2 linked regions of the Homo sapiens genome follow. Each later gene encodes a partner of the first gene's protein in a complex. Each region holds a gene or a part of one and is shown on either strand. Other genes may lie near its edges. The genes, in order: RGL2 and KRAS.

Region 1 (2,719 bases):
AGGAAGAAACATTTACAGAGTGAGGGTCAGCGTCAAGGTCAGAGTCAGGAGCAGAGCTCACCTGGGCCAGCCGAGTCAGCAGAGGAGCAGGAGTTGTAGGCGCCTCATCTCCCCCAGTACTGGGCCGGTCACAGGACACAAGCGGGGTAGGGACCCCAACAGAGCCCAAAACCCTGCAGTGGCAGGAGATTGGGAGGATCAGAGAAAAGTGGAAGTCCCAAGAAACCACCCCCCAGCCAGTGAATCTCTCACTCTGTCCACTGCGAGATGACCAATGTTGGCCGAAGCACCCGTGGGGCAGGAGGGTCACTGGAACCAGGTGGCTCCACCTCACAGGATACACGATGGCTGGGTTAGGGGGGCAATAGGCAGAGCTCAGGACATGACACCAATCCCCCACACCTGGCCAGAACCCTGGAGTCCCAACCTCACCCGCCAGTCACCTCTGAGCCTCTGTCAGTGGCCGGAGCCCCTGTAGCCACCTCTGGATATCATGGTCAGGTTGGAGGTTATAGCCACGACATTCATTCTGGAGCCGTCGCAACTCAGAAAGGACTGCAAACTCCTGGGAAGGAGCCCTCAAACTGCAGGAGCCAAAACTCAGGGACCCCTGACTTTTCCCCCTCCCCTTCCTGGAACATGGATAGGGAAGTCCAGCATCCAGCCCAGACACTCCGCTCACCTTCCTCCGCTTGTCAAAATTGATGTATCCATTCTGCGAGGAAAATGGGGATGGGGTGAAAGTTCCAACCCTACCTTCCGGCCACAGAGAGAGAATATCCCCTCTCTTAAACACACACAGCCACATCCAACTCACAACCACTTCCCTCCAGCCTCTCTGACTCTTCGATCCCTCCCTGCCTTCCTCCTCAATCTATCATGGCCTAAGCACTCCACTTGACCCTTTAAATTGAATTTCTCAGGTAGACAACGAGTCTGCTTTGCAGATGAGAGGACTGGATAGTATCCAATTCGACAGGATTCCTTATCCAGAGAGGATAAGGAACTTGTCCAAGGTCTCAGTATTTGTTTATTTAACAAACTCTAGCAATAGAGCAGGAGCCCATCACAAAACCTAGATGTGCTTACGTTTCAGGCACGTTCTAAGCACTTGACAAATACAAATTCATTTAACCCTTATAACAGATCAATGTAGATGCTATTTCTAGTTTCCCATTTACAGATCACTGAGGCGACTTGGCACAGAAACAGATCTGGCTCTGTCCCACACTCAGCTATTTGTGCCTTACAGCCCCTTGCAAGGGGCGGGGGGGTCTGTCCGACCCTGCAGCCCACTTGTTACATCATTGCAATGACACACACACACACCACTGACCTCCAACTCATCCTTGGAGGCTGCATCCAGCATCACAAGGTCCTTCAGGAAGGTGCCAAGGTATGGGACCACACCCTGAAGTCAGGGGTCAGGGTCAGAAGTGCCTGCCATTGACGTGAGGGCCCTCCATCCCTCCGCACTTGCCCTCCTCATTGCCTCAGAGAACAGATTTCATTCTCCTCACCCCTCTGTGCCTCCCTTACCCATCCTTCAGGCTGCTCCCCCAAAACATACTCCTCACCCCTTCATAATCACCACCCCCACGCCCACCACCCCGCTAGTCACTCACCCCACCCCGGGAGCCAGACCTCGGGGCCTTCTTGGAGTGTGGCTCCAGAGGAGACTGCAGCTTCACCTCCTGGTGGTGACAAAATAAAAGAGACATGGGGGAGCAGTAGGGAACAAGGAGAGGTGGGAATGCCACAAACCAGGCTCTCACCTGCACGAGCAGCTCCCGACTCTGGGAATAATTATCCTCCTCGGAGAAAATCTGGCAGAGGCTGGAAAAGACTCTGAGGCTGTCCCTGGGGAAGGGAGAAAAGTGGCCCTGAGGACAGGCCTGGCTCTGTCACCCCCTCTTCCCCGCCTTCTGAGGAACCCCCACCCCAGTCCAATGCCTCAGCCTCCGCACCTGGTTGCTTCCCCCCAGGCTGCCCGAAGCCTGTGGATGGGGCTGGACTGCAGGGCTGACACCACGGCATAAACTGAAGAGAAGTTTCGGAGCAGCCGGCACTCCTGTGGGGGTCAAAGAAGAGAGCTAAGGCTATGGGAGGCCTCTCCATTCCATGGCCACAAACCGTAGGGCAATCTTCTCTCTCACCTCTGCCACGCGGATCCACTTCTCCAGGAGCCGGGCCCTCTGTGGGGGACGGAGTGGCCGTATGGTCACCTCCCCAGGTCCCTCTCCAGTGGAAGTAGCCCCCAGGACAGAACTAACCACTGCCCCTGCCACCTTGTTAAACTGTGTGACAGTAGCTCGGACAGATGGGCAGAGGTGAGAATGTCCTGGCCGGTCTCTGTGACCCCACAGGCCTCCCAGGCACTGAGAGGGGATCAAATTGAGAAAAAGTTCCTGCAGGGTAGAGGTCAGAGGTTAAAGTTCATAGTCAAGTGAGGTCAGCCTTCCAATATCAGGGATCTGAGGATCTCAGGTGGCCAAGGAACCAGAGGGGCACAGGGTTTGAAGGGTAACGACCAAAGGGAAAAGGGGAGAATCAAAATGGTAGGTGGAGGAGGCTAGGAGCTGGATCAGGAAGGGGTGGAAGCAAGGAAAGGATCTGGAGTCAAGGAGAGGTTAGTAAGGGGTCAGGGGGCATAGGGGCCAGAGGTCAGGGTCTCACCGCATCTAGCAGGGTCAGCTGTTCGGCCAAGTGGTCAGCGAGG
Region 2 (3,825 bases), on another chromosome or scaffold:
CATGCTATCCAGTATTAACACAGAAGTTACTAAATATAAATTCAGCTTTAAGGTAACTGCTGGGTTCTAAAAAACATTACTACACAATTATCAAGAAATCATTACTTTTTGACAAATGGAAATCTTCAGATAGTTTTTGCTGTCTAAAAAAAAATCCCCTAAAAAAAGTTATATACTGTTTGAAGAAAAAATGTTTAGAAGAAAAAAAAAATCAATGGAATACAAATGAGATGAACTTGTGCAAACTGTAACTTAACATGCCCCACAAAGTTTCTATGTATATATTAGGACAAAATTGTGCAATGGTGACAACAGTTTTGATAACCTATAAAAGTTAGGTTCTAAATTCCTATGCAGTGTGACTCAGTTAAATAGAGCCTAGAATGCCTACTTGGGAACATTCACTCAAATGATACAATATACGTCTGCTATATTCTTCCACAAACATGTTAATGCCTAAGTCTATGTAATTTAGCTTTTTTTAAAAAAACTTCAACAAGGATTTTTGTCTTTAAGGCTGTAATAATTAGGTAACATTTATTTCTAGAATTCTCCCCCTTTAAAATCTCTACAAAAACAAATCTTTTGTTAAACCATTCAAAGTTCACATAAAGGTAATTAACCACTACCTTAAAAAAATGCCCATCTACATCAAAAATTCAAGAGGCCTAAATATCCCCTCATAAGCACTGCAGTTCCTGAAGTATGGCCATTTCTTTCTCTGTGTAGAAACGAGGTACTGTGTAAGTCTTAACACCCTACCTAAACAGTGTTCCAAAGATCTGTAGTTTCACATAGCAATTCAGAAATCATAGTGATTTTTACATAGAAGTTTCCTTGTCTGTGAACTAGTTCAGGCACCTGTTTATTTGTACCCAGATAAAACTATTAATTTTTAAGTATATTTTAATTACTTATGCAGAGAAAACTGGAATATTACACATTTGGGTCAATATGAATATCTGACATACACCTTAATGTGTACAGTAATTGTCCTAAAAGAATCACAGTTATGCCAAATAAAAAAACAATATAATCAAGTTTATTCCTTTAAAACAATGAAGTGATTTACATAAAGTAGCTTGATCGAAGAGTTTCAGTGGAATCGTAGCAAAACAATTATAGAGCTGGCACAGAGACCAAACCCCTTCTTTGCAAAACTAAAATACGCATCGTGTTATCTCTGGGTCGTATACCAAAGGCCTTAGTAAGATATTACAGACCACACTAGCACTACCTAAGGACCGGGATTATGTCTCTTGTTTGGGGATACCATATACCCAGTGCCTTGTGTGGTGACTGGCATCTGGTAGGCACTCAATAAATATTTGCTGAATAAATGAGTTCTGCAAAACAGGTTTATGAGGCCAAGGTGGGTGAATCACTTGAGGTCAGGAGTTCGAGACCAGCCTGGCCAACAGGGTGAAACCCCGTCTCTCCTAAAAATACAAAAATTAGTTGAGTGTAGTGGCACACGCCTGTAATCCCAGCTACTCAGGAGGCCGAGGCACGAGAATCGCTTGAACCTGGGAGATGGAGGTTGCAGTGAGCTGAGATGGCGCCACTGCATTCCAGCCTGGGTGACAAGAGCGAGACTCTGACACCAAAAAAAAAAAGTAAGCTTCATGAATTAAAGTATTTTTCATTGCATGAAGATTTCTGGTTACTAAAACAATGGAATGTATTACTGTTACCAGGAGTAGTCCTAGTTATAGATTACCTAAGGAATTCTTTCAGCACTATCTTTATTAAATTCTCCTTCCACTGGATAGGGTTCTGTCTATTCATACCAGGTTTGAAAAATCCTACTGTCGCTAATGGATTGGGCAGCAAAGAGATGTTCAAAGCATCAGCCACCACCTGAAAATTAGTGATTAGGTCAAATCCCTTTATGGTATCTGTCAGATTCTCTTGAGCCCTGAGGAAATAAGATGTAGGGCATTTCTGATGTGACTCAGTGGGAAAACTTCATGGAGATATCCACAGCAGCAGTAAATCTTATGGTTAGGGGAATTACAAGTATTAAAACTGCATCAAGTCATGGGGCATGTGGAAGGTAGGGAGGCAAGATGACACTAATATGGAAGAAGAGTCCTAAAACGAGAATGGATATTCAAATATAAACTTCACCTCTTGCACAATTTTGCCCAAGACTGGCACTGAAGATGGTGTAACATAGGTTAAAAATTTACAGATTGTGCTGAGCTTGACAAATAAGTGTATCCTTATGTAAATGGAATATAAATTACATAGTTGTAAAAAAAAAAAACTAAGAGTTTGAGATGACTTCTTTTAACATGAAGAAATGGATAGTAAGTGATGTCCTCAAAATCAGAGTCCTAAAAGACACCTATCTAGAACCTAAGTCACCTTCTTCCTAGTCCAGTGATACTTTCACCTCACCATGCCATCTCACTTCATTTATTTTAAAATAAGTAACATTTTAAATTTATCAAAAGGATTGTTTTTATTTTTATTTTAAAGCATTATTAAATATGGATCAGACTTGAAAAGTGTTTATGCAATGTTAATTTAACCAGTGTTAAGAGAACTAGCCAAACCTAGAGATTGTAAAACTTTTTCACTTCATTGTTTAAAAAAAAAATTAATGTCTTGGCACACCACCACCCCAAAATCTCAACTTTTGAGTTAATATTTAAAAGTAATTTTTAAAAAAGAGTTTGTTTTCTTAAGAAACAAAAGCAATGCTCTTGATTTGTCAGCAGGACCACCACAGAGTGAGATTGTATCTTGTTGAGCTATCCAAACTGCCCTAGTCCCTCCCCATTTTGACTAACCAATGCATGACAACACTGGATGACCGTGGGGACACAGTCCATGCTGTGAAACTCTCTATGAAAGCTCAAAGGTTCACACAGGGCCTGGCCTTGCAACCTTGGTCTCTTCAACACCTAATAAGCTATAACTGGCCCAAATAATCTTTTAATGTCACAAGCAGAATTAAAACTATCTTCAAAGACTCAAGTTGAAGAAAAGATTTAAAGTTATACTATGAAAGAGCAGTCTGACACAGGGAGACTACATTTAATTCCTATGAGAATTTTTTATACTTGTTAAAATCTTTTCAATTATTATAAAAATTTAGTAGCATGTAAATATAGCCCCAAAATGGTTGCTATAATAATCCCCATTTCATACTGGGTCTGCCTTAACAGGAAAAGCTATTAGGAGTCTTTATAGTAATTTATCTAATGTGAAAAGGAAATGGCCTTATAATAGTTTCCATTGCCTTGTAATTTTTTTCCATTTTTTTCTTTTTATAGAAAAAATATAATATTTTGGGGAGAGTGACCATGACTAATAGCAGTGGAAAGGAGACAAAACCTTTGTGAACAGTGTAACTTTACATTCATCAGGGATGACAAACTATAGGACATGATGCCTAGAAGAATCATCATCAGGAAGCCCATAAATTTGTGTTCCCTCAATGTTTCAGTAAAAACCAATTAGAAGGTCTCAACTGAAATTAGTAATTAATCCATTTATGTGACTAGATAAAACACAGAATAGGGATGATTCAAAAGCTTCATTAATTTGTTTCACACCAACATTCACAATTGGTAAGAAAAATAAGAAGTAATCAACTGCATGCACCAAAAGCCCCAAGACAGAAATCTTAGGTATTCAGTTTCTTTTTCACAGGCATTGCTAGTTCAAAAACCAAAACTCTGGGAATACTGGCACTTAGAGGAAAAAAAAACTTCCACTGTCATTTTAAAATAAGCATTTAAGGTAAAAGCTAACAGTCTGCATGGAGCAGGAAAAAAATTAGGTAATGCTAAAACAAATGCTAATAATTTAGTG

What was found.
Region 2: the proteins of RGL2 (region 1) and KRAS are in contact, whole or in part, in a crystal structure (PDB 8B69), measured with the Homo sapiens proteins. Residues at the interface, in NP_004752.1 of Homo sapiens: Ile651, Arg653, Glu660, Asp661, Gly662, Ser663, Val664, Tyr665, Lys666, Ser667, Ile668, Leu669, Lys685, Lys686, Asn688, Arg689; in NP_001356715.1 of Homo sapiens: Ile24, Gln25, His27, Val29, Glu31, Asp33, Pro34, Thr35, Ile36, Glu37, Asp38, Ser39, Tyr40, Arg41, Lys42, Tyr64.

What each region holds. Positions count from the first base shown.
Region 1 is NC_000006.12:33,293,352-33,296,070, forward strand, and holds part of RGL2 (ral guanine nucleotide dissociation stimulator-like 2), read right to left. Parts: coding exon 2,677-2,719; intron 2,409-2,676; coding exon 2,157-2,408; intron 2,072-2,156; coding exon 1,968-2,071; intron 1,861-1,967; coding exon 1,776-1,860; intron 1,695-1,775; coding exon 1,626-1,694; intron 1,412-1,625; coding exon 1,337-1,411; intron 716-1,336; coding exon 683-715; intron 585-682; coding exon of another isoform or gene 566-584; coding exon 444-565; intron 349-443; coding exon 253-348; intron 174-252; coding exon 62-173; intron 1-61. UniProt on the Homo sapiens protein: Probable guanine nucleotide exchange factor. Putative effector of Ras and/or Rap. Associates with the GTP-bound form of Rap 1A and H-Ras in vitro.
Region 2 is NC_000012.12:25,205,911-25,209,735, forward strand, and holds part of KRAS (GTPase KRas), read right to left. Parts: 3' UTR 1-3,825. UniProt on the Homo sapiens protein: Ras proteins bind GDP/GTP and possess intrinsic GTPase activity. Plays an important role in the regulation of cell proliferation.